Linked DNA regions of Homo sapiens. The protein of the gene in region 1 purifies or fractionates together with the protein of each later gene. This does not show direct contact. Each region holds a gene or a part of one and is shown in the gene's direction. Other genes may lie near its edges.

The links.
Region 2: the proteins of PXYLP1 (region 1) and FURIN purify together in Homo sapiens (affinity purification with mass spectrometry; 3 studies listed by BioGRID and IntAct, with this or other methods). This does not show direct contact.

The regions. Positions count from the first base shown.
Region 1 is NC_000003.12:141,290,821-141,295,448, forward strand, and holds the end of PXYLP1 (2-phosphoxylose phosphatase 1), read left to right. Parts: intron 1-1,447; coding exon 1,448-2,385; 3' UTR 2,386-4,104; downstream 4,105-4,628. UniProt on the Homo sapiens protein: Responsible for the 2-O-dephosphorylation of xylose in the glycosaminoglycan-protein linkage region of proteoglycans thereby regulating the amount of mature glycosaminoglycan (GAG) chains.
Region 2 is NC_000015.10:90,864,075-90,871,600, forward strand, and holds the start of FURIN (furin isoform 1 preproprotein), read left to right. Parts: upstream 1-4,513; 5' UTR 4,514-4,637; intron 4,638-6,977; exon of another isoform or gene 6,978-7,076; intron 7,077-7,465; exon of another isoform or gene 7,466-7,526. UniProt on the Homo sapiens protein: Ubiquitous endoprotease within constitutive secretory pathways capable of cleavage at the RX(K/R)R consensus motif. Mediates processing of TGFB1, an essential step in TGF-beta-1 activation.

The DNA.
Region 1 (4,628 bases):
ACCTTCTTCATTGGGTTTTTGTGAGGATTAAATGGGAAAGGCCTGGCACACAGTAAGCACTCTAACTTTATGTGGCCTAACCAAATAAAATAGGCCCCGCAGTGAACTAGGGTGAGACACGGAATCTAATGTTTGTCTCTCACGGTTTGCATGTTTTTTTGCAAAGCGTCTTGGAAGTGCTAAATCCTGTTCCAGCCTTTAGTTCCTGGGTTCCTGGGGGAGTTCTGTTCTCAATACTCTTCATGCACAGTAGGACCCAGACATCCTTTGTGGGTTTTGCTGAGCTGTTCCCTTTCCCAGGGGAACATATTTCCCTCTGTCTCACAATTTTCAGCTGAAGTTGTCTCATCTTTGCAGTGGGACTTTTCATACTGTTTGGACATCTGAATAAATGGTGTCACTGGTCACAGGGCCTGTGTGTAGAACTCATGCCCATGACAGATTGTGTCCCGTTACCTCCTACTACAGGATGAGAGTGAGCTTGTTTTTGTCTTGGGTTGCCTTCTTCTGCTTAAAGATAAGGCTTTTTCCAATGTTAAAAGTTAATTTATTATCATACCATGATAGTTCAAAACTAAAACAGTACTAAGAAGTAAACTTTAAATTCTTGCTTCTACCCATGTTCCATCCACCTCATTTTTGTACCTCCGTCACCCCCAGGGAACCATTGAGATTAGTTTCTTATACAACTTTCCAAAGTTTCTTTATGCAAAACTCAGGCAGCTGCAAATACATATTCTTATTTTTCCCTCTCTTTCTTTTTAAAGGAGCATAATCAACATACTGTTCTACACTTGGCTTTTTTCCAGTATTCTATCTGGGTATCAGGAGATTGTTCCATATCATACAGAGAATGCATGTGTGTTGACGAGTCTGTAAAGCCCCCAGGATCAGGCAGAACGTACCCAGCAGGTTATCAGAGAACATTCGGTTGGCAGGCTGGGGAGGATGGGGTCAAGGAGGGGACTCTCCAGCAGTGAGGAGACAGCAGCAAGCAGGGAATCTGCAGTCAGCCTTCGCCTGAGCGGTTTCACTGAGCACTCGCTGCACACTGAGGAATGCTGGACAGGAGGGAAAAACCTCTCCTTAGGCCCATGCAATTACAGATATCCCCTGGCTGGGTGACTTCGAACCCTGAGACCAACCAGTCACAACACTTTCCCCAGGGAAGAGGCCAGTCTGGAGGCCAAGTGCAAGGCAGATGGTCCAAAGGCCGTGGTTCTCAAGGCCAGGGCCCCGCTCTGCTCATCCTTCATGAATAACCCCAAGAGGCTCCCTTCACAAGCTGTTGTGAACTCGAGCTTGTAACTTCCACACCATGGGGAAACAGGCTGGATGCCATTCTCTTGCCCTAAAACACTCCAGAGCCACACGCTGACTCCACCTCCCCTTGCTGTTTCTTTTGCTCAGCTGGAAGTAAGGTAAGCTTTGTGTGCTTGTGTTTCAGGAGTTGTGCAGCATTTGCAGAACGGTCAGCTGCTGAGGGATATCTATCTAAAGAAACACAAACTCCTGCCCAATGATTGGTCTGCAGACCAGCTCTATTTAGAGACCACTGGGAAAAGCCGGACCCTACAAAGTGGGCTGGCCTTGCTTTATGGCTTTCTCCCAGATTTTGACTGGAAGAAGATTTATTTCAGGCACCAGCCAAGTGCGCTGTTCTGCTCTGGAAGCTGCTATTGCCCGGTAAGAAACCAGTATCTGGAAAAGGAGCAGCGTCGTCAGTACCTCCTACGTTTGAAAAACAGCCAGCTGGAGAAGACCTACGGGGAGATGGCCAAGATCGTGGATGTCCCCACCAAGCAGCTTAGAGCTGCCAACCCCATAGACTCCATGCTCTGCCACTTCTGCCACAATGTCAGCTTTCCCTGTACCAGAAATGGCTGTGTTGACATGGAGCACTTCAAGGTAATTAAGACCCATCAGATCGAGGATGAAAGGGAAAGACGGGAGAAGAAATTGTACTTCGGGTATTCTCTCCTGGGTGCCCACCCCATCCTGAACCAAACCATCGGCCGGATGCAGCGTGCCACCGAGGGCAGGAAAGAAGAGCTCTTTGCCCTCTACTCTGCTCATGATGTCACTCTGTCACCAGTTCTCAGTGCCTTGGGCCTTTCAGAAGCCAGGTTCCCAAGGTTTGCAGCCAGGTTGATCTTTGAGCTTTGGCAAGACAGAGAAAAGCCCAGTGAACATTCCGTCCGGATTCTTTACAATGGCGTCGATGTCACATTCCACACCTCTTTCTGCCAAGACCACCACAAGCGTTCTCCCAAGCCCATGTGCCCGCTTGAAAACTTGGTCCGCTTTGTGAAAAGGGACATGTTTGTAGCCCTGGGTGGCAGTGGTACAAATTATTATGATGCATGTCACAGGGAAGGATTCTAAAAGGTATGCAGTACAGCAGTATAGAATCCATGCCAATACAGAGCATAGGGAAAGGTCCACTTCTAGTTTTGTCTGTTACTAAGGGTAGAAGATTATTGCTTTTTAAAGGCTAAATATTGTTTGTGGGAACCACAGATGGTTGGGGTTGAACAGTAAGCACATTGCTGCAATGTGGTACGTGAATTGCTTGGTACAAAATGGCCAGTTCACAGAGGAATAGAAGGTACTTTATCATAGCCAGACTTCGCTTAGAATGCCAGAATAATATAGTTCAAGACCTGAAGTTGCCAATCCAAGTTTGCACTCTTCTGGCCTGCCCCATGTTACTATGTGATGGAACCAGCACACCTCAACCAAAATTTTTTTAATCTTAGACATTTTTACCTTGTCCTTGTTAAGAATTTCTTGAAGTGATTTATCTAAAATAAAGGTTGGCAAACTTTTTCTGTAAAGGGCCAGATTGTAAATATTTCAGACTGTGTGGACCAAAAGGCCACATACAGTCTCTGTCATAACTACTCAACTCTGTTTCTGAAGCAGGAAAGCCACCACAGACAGTACATAAAGGAATATGTGTAGCTGGGTTCCCAGGCCGGACAAAACAGATGGTGACCAGATTTGGCCCCTGGGCTGTAGTTTGCTGACCCCTCATCTAAAAAATAGGCTATACTACAATTGCACTTCCAGCACTTTGAGAACGAGTTGAATACCAAGAATTATTCAATGGTTCCTCCAGTAACTTCTGCTAGAAACACAGAATTTGGTCTGTATCTGACACTAGAACAAAACTTGAGGGTAAATAAACATTGAATTAGAATGAATCATAGAAAACTGATTAGAAGAATACTTGATGTTTATGATGATTGTGGTACAAGATAGTTTTAAGTATGTTCTAAATATTTGTCTGCTGTAGTCTATTTGCTGTATATGCTGAAATTTTTGTATGCCATTTAGTATTTTTATAGTTTAGGAAAATATTTTCTAAGACCAGTTTTAGATGACTCTTATTCCTGTAGTAATATTCAATTTGCTGTACCTGCTTGGTGGTTAGAAGGAGGCTAGAAGATGAATTCAGGCACTTTCTTCCAATAAAACTAATTATGGCTCATTCCCTTTGACAAGCTGTAGAACTGGATTCATTTTTAAACCATTTTCATCAGTTTCAAATGGTAAATTCTGATTGATTTTTAAATGCGTTTTTGGAAGAACTTTGCTATTAGATAGTTTACAGATCTTTATAAGGTGTTTTATATATTAGAAGCAATTATAATTACATCTGTGATTTCTGAACTAATGGTGCTAATTCAGAGAAATGGAAAGTGAAAGTGAGATTCTCTGTTGTCATCGGCATTCCAACTTTTTCTCTTTGTTTTTGTCCAGTGTTGCATTTGAATATGTCTGTTTCTATAAATAAATTTTTTAAGAATACCTATACTATACAACTAATGGTTTGTACCTATAAGTCACTCGAGTTATTTTCAAGTGAGAGCCAGTATTTTATTTTTCCCCCTTCATTCAAATGTCATGCAGAGAACCAGTATTTTAAAATTTTATTTTAACTGCTTTACTAACTGCTGAAAGTTGTGTTATCTCTCAAGTATTCAAAGACTAAATGTGTTTTCTTTCCTTCCCACTCACAATATATCTGAATTAGAACTGCTAAACACAGCTTGAAGACTTAAAAATAAAAGTGACTCGGAAGATTTTTTAAAAAATCAATTGATAGTATCTGTTGGTAAAAGTAAATATTGTGGCTAAGAGTCAACACCAAAAGTGTAGATAACAGTTTTGTCTTCTAAGACACTGGTATGCACAGCATCAAAATATCTTCCTCACTATCAAGTTCCGAGACACTTCATTCCATAACAAACACTAAGCACAGAGATGAGATCAGTGGACACAGTCATAGTCCTTGGTTTCTGGGCAGTGGTCTAATGACTTAACTCATGACAGGCCTGGGTGTATACATGCATAATTTAGCTTCCTTGTTTTTATGATTAATACATGCCCACTAGAAAATAACCAATACTGAAAAACAGCTTCAGAAGTGATGTTCTCATCTAATCCCACCTCCAGAGGTAATGTTGTGAGCTGTCTGACATTCTTCTGGAAAAGTTCCATGTAGATTCAGAAATATATGTAGTTTTTAATAGGAACTAGATCATTTTATATATATGTAAATATATATAATATGTGTGTGTATATATATATAGTTCTGTGACTTGCTTCCCTTAAAAATATTT
Region 2 (7,526 bases), on another chromosome or scaffold:
AAGAAACCAGAAAAATCAGCATGTACTACTGTGAGAACATAGGTGAACAATTCTTGTCCAAGAAAAAGTCAAATGTGAATCACAGCTGAGCCACCCACATCACGATGGCTGAGTGAATCTGTGTCTGATTTAGCCACAGTTCAGCTCTCTTGTAGAGGCAGAAAGCAGAGCGGTTGAAGTGTGTGTAGGCTTTCTATTCTTATGTCCCAGGTTCAAATCCTGGGTCTTTATTTTCCTTAGTGACTGCGAGTCCAGGCCTCAGTTTCCTAATCTGTGAAACAGGGATCATAACAGCACCTGCCTCAAGGGTTGTTGTGAGCAATATATGAAGCAATCATTATAAGGCATTGAGCACAGAGCCTGAGAGTATGAGCCCGTAAACTCACTGTGAGTTTCAGCTGTTAACTCAAAGCAGCTTTTTGTTGCCAAGTCGCTGGCTAAAGATGCCCAAGGGCTATGGTCTAGAGAGAAGCACCTGAACCCACCTAAGCAGTTGGGTTGGGGGATCCCGCCTGGCTGCTCCGCCAGCTCTTGTCCTGCAGAGGCCCCCACTTCGCAGGTCAGATGTGTGGTTCACCTCCTGTCCAGCCTTCCCAGGCCTGCGCAGGAGCCTACCACCTGCTCACTGGTTTGTAAGTCATTCAGGGGCTGGGCGCTTATAGAGTCACTCAAGGCGGTGACTCACACCTGTAATCCCAGCACTCTGGGAGGCCGAGGCAGGTGGTTCACTTGAAGTCAGGAGTTTGAGACCAGCCTGGCCAACGTAGCAAATGAAAACCCGTCTCTACTAAAAATACAAAAAATTAGCTGGGCGTGGTAGCACATGCCTCTAATCCCAGCTACTCGGGGAGGCTGAGGCAGAGGCTGCAGTGAGCTGAGACCGCACCACTGCACTCCAGCCTGGGTGACAAGAGTGACACTGTCTCAAAAAAAAAAAAAGTCACTGGACTCCCCCAAGCCAGTCCCCTACATTTCACATCAGGAGGGTCACCTATGGTGCCTCCTGCGTCGGGCTGTGGTGGGTTCCCACACGAACCCCCATATCTCTACTCCCCATGGTAGTCAGAGGAGCCTTTAAAAAGGGTAAATTTGCCGGGCACGGTGGCTCACGCCTGTAATCCCAGCACCTCTGGAGGGGGAGGCAGGAGGATTGCTTGAGGCCAGTCTGGGCAACAGAGTGAGAGCCCATCTTTTAAATTAAATTTAAAAATATAAAAATAAAATGGCTGGGCGCGGTGGCTCACGCCTGTAATCCCAGCACTTTGGGAGGCTGAGGCAGGTGGACTGACTGAGGTCAGGAGTTCGAGACCAGTCTGGCCAACATGGTGAAACCCTGTCTCTACTAAAAATACAAAAAAATTAGCCGGGTGTGGTGGTGTGTGCCTGTAATCCCAGCTACTCGGGAGGCTGAGGCAGGGGAATTGCTTGAGCCAGGGAGGTGGAGGTTGCAGTGAGCCGAGATTGCGCCACTGCACTCCAGCCTGGACGACAGAGCAAGACTCCATCTCTAAATAAATAAATAAATAATTTTTATTAAAGGGTAAATCAGTCAAATTTCCAAAAGAATTTTGAGAATCCAGAGCCCATTGCTCTGATAATTAAATTCAACATCTGGACCCAGCTTGGCAAGTGCTCTGTGATCCAGCCCGTTACCTACCTCTCATCTCATCTCTCGGCCATGCTCCAAGAAGTGTCTGCTCCCCAAGTGCATAAGCTCATGCCCCCAGGCCCATGTCCTTGCCTCTCCCTCTGCCTGGGACACTCTTCCTCCAGATCTTTACACTTTTGCCTCTTTTTTCAGCCTCAGCTCAAACATCACCTCCTCCCAGAGGTCTTCCCTGACCACCCCAGGGATAGCAGCCCTCCCGCTTCCCCAGGCACTCCCACATTACCTTCTTTATCATTTTCTTCCAGAGCTCTTAGGATGATCTGAACTTCTCTCATAAACTGGCTTATTCACCTGTGAACTGCCTGCTTCCCTCGCTATAACTGAAGCACTGGAAGAGGTCCTGCACCCAGCAGGCACTCAATGAGTATCTGAGGAATGAGTGAATGAAATGCCCAGTGCACAATCAACCTCCACAAAAGCAGTTTTTCTTTTCACATATAACTCATCGCTATCACAGCCCCTCTCCTTGCTCACCCGCCTCGCTGAGGGGCTCCTGAGAACCTCCGTAGAGGTCTCCATCAGCCAAAAAGCATCTGCACCGTCAGAGAGGGCCCCTCACTGCCGCTCGCAGTGCTCCCTGCTGCCACGTGCAGCCCCTTGAGCATGAGCCTGTTGACACAGGTTGGCACACGGTGTCTGGCTTCTGTAAATGCTCTCTGCTCCCAGGTGTGCCGTGCCCCATTGAAGGACAGCACTCACACTCCTCCAGGTATTAACTGACTTTTTCCCCAGCAATGTTTGTTTTAGGGATTAAAGTTTGTGGAGGAGCCTATAATTTCCAGACTCATCTGTTCCTTTCCTGGCAGCCAGCACATTTGTCATTCTATTTTTCCCAAGTCCCTGATAATACCGTTCCAGACATGTTGATTTGATGGCATCAGTCAACGGAAAGACTCTCTGGGGCCTGCCGTAGGCCAGAGGACAGGCTCTCCGGGCCACACTCAGGGGCGACTGAGCCAACTCTTCACGCCATTCCTTTCCTTCCCTGCCTAGGACGACCTTACAGCCCATGATCGCTTTTCTTCTTCTTCTTCTGTTTGTTTTTTCTTCCTGTTTTCTTTTTAAGTACTACAGTGACCCCTTATTTATTCAGCAAAGAAATGGACTACTCCACAGTAGTGAATTTTCAAAATAATGCCCTTCAAGCACTAAAACTTTAAACAACACATCTTCAAAACAGCTTTGCTGAGGTATAACTGACACACTATAAACGGCATGGATTTAAAGTGTACAACTTGATATGTTTTGATATATGGACACACCCATGAAACCATCACCACAATCAAGATAATGAACATGTCCATCATTCCCAAAAGTTTCCTCCCGCCCCTCCCTGCCCCCTTCCCCAAGCAAGCACTGATCTGTTTTCCAAATACGTCTTTAATGCTACAAGGGCTCACACACCTCCCCACCTTAGAAAATGGAGTATGATCAACATGATTGATCCTTTCCTTGATTCAGCATTATCACCAACACGATGGAAAGTGATCTCAGATGTCATGAGGATGCATGATTGTTTGCCCTGATCACTAAACGGCCCATTGTTGTGCTGGCATACTGGGCAGTTTCAAGTTTGGGAGTTTTCTCCCTCACTGCTAGCTGTCTCAGAGCTTAGTTCCCAGCAGACAACTCTTGCTGCCTCGAACCCTGGCACACTAACCACCATCCTGTGACGTTCCCACTCCTCATTCTGCGACAGTGGTTCTTTGCTGGGAGAGATTTTTGTCTCCCAAGGGACATTTGGCAATACCTGGAGATCTTTTTGGTTGTCATCATGGGAGCGGGAATGCTACTAGCAGCTAATGTTTAGTGACTAGGGATGCGACTGAACATCCTGCAATGTAGAGTGCAGTGTCCCCTACAGAGAATTATCCGACCCAAGATGTTGATAATGCCAAGGTTGAGAAACCCTGTTCAGGATGACAAACTGATTGAAAACTCAACAAGGGGACCGGGCGTGGTGGCTCACGCCTAATAATCCCAGCACTTAGGGAGGCCGAGGTGGGTGTATCACTTAAGGTCAGGAGTGCGAGACCAGCCTGGCCAACATGGCAAAACCCCATCTCTACTAAAAATACAAAAAAAAAAAAAAAAAATACGAGTGGCGTAAGCCTGTAATCCCAGCTACTTGGGAGGCTGAAGCATGAGAATCGCCTGAACCCAGAAGGCAGAGGTTGCAGTGAGCTGTGATCAGGCCATTGCATTCCAGCCTGGGCAACAGAGCGAGACTCTTGTCTAGAAAAAAAAAAAACAAACCCATAAAACAAACAAACAAAAAAAACTATGAGGATTGAGTGATTCACATTTCTGAATCGAGAGAGAGAAGGATGGGCAGCAGGCTTGTTGAAGCTGGAAGGCCAGGGAGGTCGCAGACTGAGGAAGACCCTGGTGTGTCCCAGGTACCTCCATGCAACCCTACTAGAGAGGTGGTCTCTGGCTTCCTATGGACAAGCTCTAAGGGACCCAGCTATGGGGCACCAGAGCCCAGCGTTCAGCAGCTGCTCAATGAATGTCTGCCAGGCGAGACTGCACCCAAAGCATTTATTAGGTACATAATTGTGGCAGCACTGGCTGGCCATGGAAGGCAAGGCAGAACACAAGGAGCTGGAGCTGGCGGAAGGAAGTCATTAAGTCAGCCAGTGGCTGGGATGCAGCAAAGCCAGGCAGAAGGTAAGTGCAGACCCACCCCAATAAATGAGGAAAATGAGAAGGGCTGGCTGGCCATGTTAGGATCCAGTTCCAGTGCGACCAGATATGTCACCACCACATCACTTTTAGCTCCTCCCCCCACCCACAGACACCCTGTTTGCCTGTCATATAAAGAAGGTTTTCCCAAAGTGGTTTAGCCAGAACTGGAAGGGCCCCGCCCTGTGAAGGGATAGGAGCCTGACTGTTGCAGCTGCAGTGAGTGGCGGGGAAGCAGCAGCGGCCAGGATGAATCCCAGGTGCTCTGGAGCTGGATGGTGAAGTATGGACATGCTTTATTCGATTTTGCATTGACTTAAAGGTTTAATTATTTTAGGAGTTCTTGTAGACATTCCTGAAAAATGCAGGTAGGCAAAAAGAAGAAAACAAAGATCGCAAATGTGACCCTTTCATTCGGAGAGAACACCAATGGAATTTTGTTGTGCACCCTTCTATGCACGTCTGAATGTTGTGTAGACATTCTGCTTACAACTAGGTGTGGGTGCTGCTGCCGAAGGCTTTATTTGCTGTGCCTGAGGTGGACCAGAGATTTCAGAGAAGACTCCCAGAGCACCCCAAGGAGACAACAGGAGTGCTTGGAGTCAGGATGACTGGGTGGATTTAGGACTATGTGATTCTCAGGAGCCTCTCTGGATTAGCCCCAAATCAAGGATAAAGAGAGGCCTAGCTGGACTCTTCCTCCCAGAGCCCTGCTGGGAAAATGGAGCCCCTTTACAGCCCCCACTTACCCATCAGGCCCTGCTCCTCTCACTCATCTCCAGACTTCTGTCACATGCCCAAGTCCTGCTAACTGCTGTGTAAAACTGGTAAGGTGGGATCCAGAGGACCTTGGGCCCCTAGGGCCCCAGGTCAGGAGACCTGGGCTCCAGGGCCAGTTGAGAGTGATAAAGAGAACAATACCTGCCCACAGGACTTGTTGCAATGAGATAAAGGCAGAAGTCACCAGTTGTGGTCAAATGGGATTTTTTTCCAGAGAAGTCTCACAGAGAGTGGCTTTCAAATTCTTTTTAGCAGCAGAATTGTTGTAAAATACAATCTCATGTGAAACCCTAAAATGTGAGACACTCTGGGTGAAGCAGAGAGAGGTGCTCAACTGCCCAATCCTGTCCTCATTCCTCCCTCTCAGGGAGGCACCTCTGAGAACCCACTTTAAAGAATTTTGCCTTATGCAGATTGAAGAGGCAAGCTGGCTGGAAGAAACTGGGAAGCTCCACTTCCCACCGCCTCTGCCTGGGTGGCAGTCATCTGAGCCTAGGCTAGCCCCTCCCCCTCCAAAGACCCACTGCGGGCTCCCCTGGGGCCAGTCTCCAGGATGGGTGGGGCACCTGAAGCAGCAAGTATTGCTATTTTTCTGGGCTGACCTTTCTTCTAGGCCTGAGGACAAGTGGGTAGGTGGGGCCAGCCCTGTCCCTGTTTCCCCTCAATGGAGTTCTCTTGCTCACAGCCTAAGGAAGAAGCGTGAGTCACTTCCTGCCTCAGTCTGACTGCTGGAGTATTGTTCTCCCAACTGTGGCTGGCGCTACCCAGTGTGGCCCCTACAAGTCTTAGTTCCTTGGCGGAGGGGAAGTCCCCACTTTGGGACAAGGCCAACTGGACTTATCTTCCCGCTCAACTTTGAGGACCCAGCATTGTTCCTCCAGTTTCCAGTTCTTGCAGTGTTTGTAAAGGTGCCCGAATCGTACCTGATCCCATTCACTAAATATTATCTCCATTTTATAGAGGGGTAAATTGAGGAAGTCCCTGAGAAATTAACTTGTCTAAGGTGTCCCAGCAAAAAATAGTGCCCCAGGGATTTGAACCGGTTTGCTGATTGATTTTTCACCAGTTGCCTTAAGAATTATCATGATTTAACCTCTCTGGGCCTCAGTTTCCTCCTCTATAAAATGCAGACAGTGATACATCAAAGGTACTTAAAGGAAAATGTACTGTACCCACCTCATGGGGCATGTGGTGAGGATAAAACGGGTTGACACAGGAAAAGAGCTCTCAATGGTGCCTGGCTCATAGAAAACACTCAGTGGATTTTTTTTTTCCCATTACCCGGGAACCTGTGTTAAGGAGGCCACAGGCTGATCCTGTGCAGCCAGGTTATCTCACAGGGAGCGAGAAGAGATGGGCACAGGCTACTCTGCGACCTTGGAATAACCCAGCCTGGGAAGCTCCTGGCCACATTTTCCTTCTTTTCTTTCTCAGCTCAAGCAGCGTCGGCCTCAGCCAAGTAGCACAAACGTTTTCTAGGGCCCAGGGAGGGAGAGGCTCCGGCTGGTATATTGCAAGTAGCTTGGATTCAGGCTCTGCCAAACACCCCAGTCTCTTGCAGGATCTGAGGTCTGCTGGTTGTGGGACTTTGCGCAAATTATTTAAACGTTGTGCGCCTCAGTTTCCTTATCTGTAAAATGGGATTAATAATCTCAGCCTGAAAGGATTATGTGGATTAAATCATGTACATAAGAAGGAGATAATGTAAAGTGACTGGCCTGGTGCCTGGCAAGCGGTTGGTGTCTAAAAAGAAAAAAAAGCTAAAAATATTAAAAGGAGGTGGGCTACTTCTGCTCATATATCCACCTGTCTATACAAATGCAGACGAAGTCGTGACTCCTCTAACAGTAGGCCAAGAGGAGGCTGGTCCTGCCGCCGTGCAGTCCTCCCTCGACCTGGGAGTGGAGGACCCCAGGTCCGCCGTCCCTGGGCACTTAACCCGGTCAGGCTCAAATTCGTCGCCCAGGAGTGGGGAAGCGGGGGACGGAGAGGGCCAGTCCCCCAAGAGTCCGGCTGAGGCAGGGCTCGGAGTGCCTCCCCCAAGCCTTTCCCTTTGGTTCCGAGTTCGGGTCTCCGCGGCCGTCTTCCCGGGGAGCTCGCGGGGCGAAGAGCCGAGCCCGGGGGCGGGGGCACGGCAGCGGGGCCTGAGGGACGCGCCGGGCGGCCGCGAGGACTTTGGGATCGCCTGCCCCACTTCCTACCTGCCCCTACCAGGAGCCGGAGGCAGCGGGCGCCCCAGAAGGCCCCGCAGGGCCGCCGCGCGGGGCCGGACGCGCTGGGGCCCACGGCGCTGGGAACGCGGGCCCGCAGTCGGGCCCGGGCGGCATGGGCGGCCGAGGGGCGCCCGAGCCGCCGCGGCGGTCGCCTGGAAAAGTTTCCCCGCCAGGGCTCC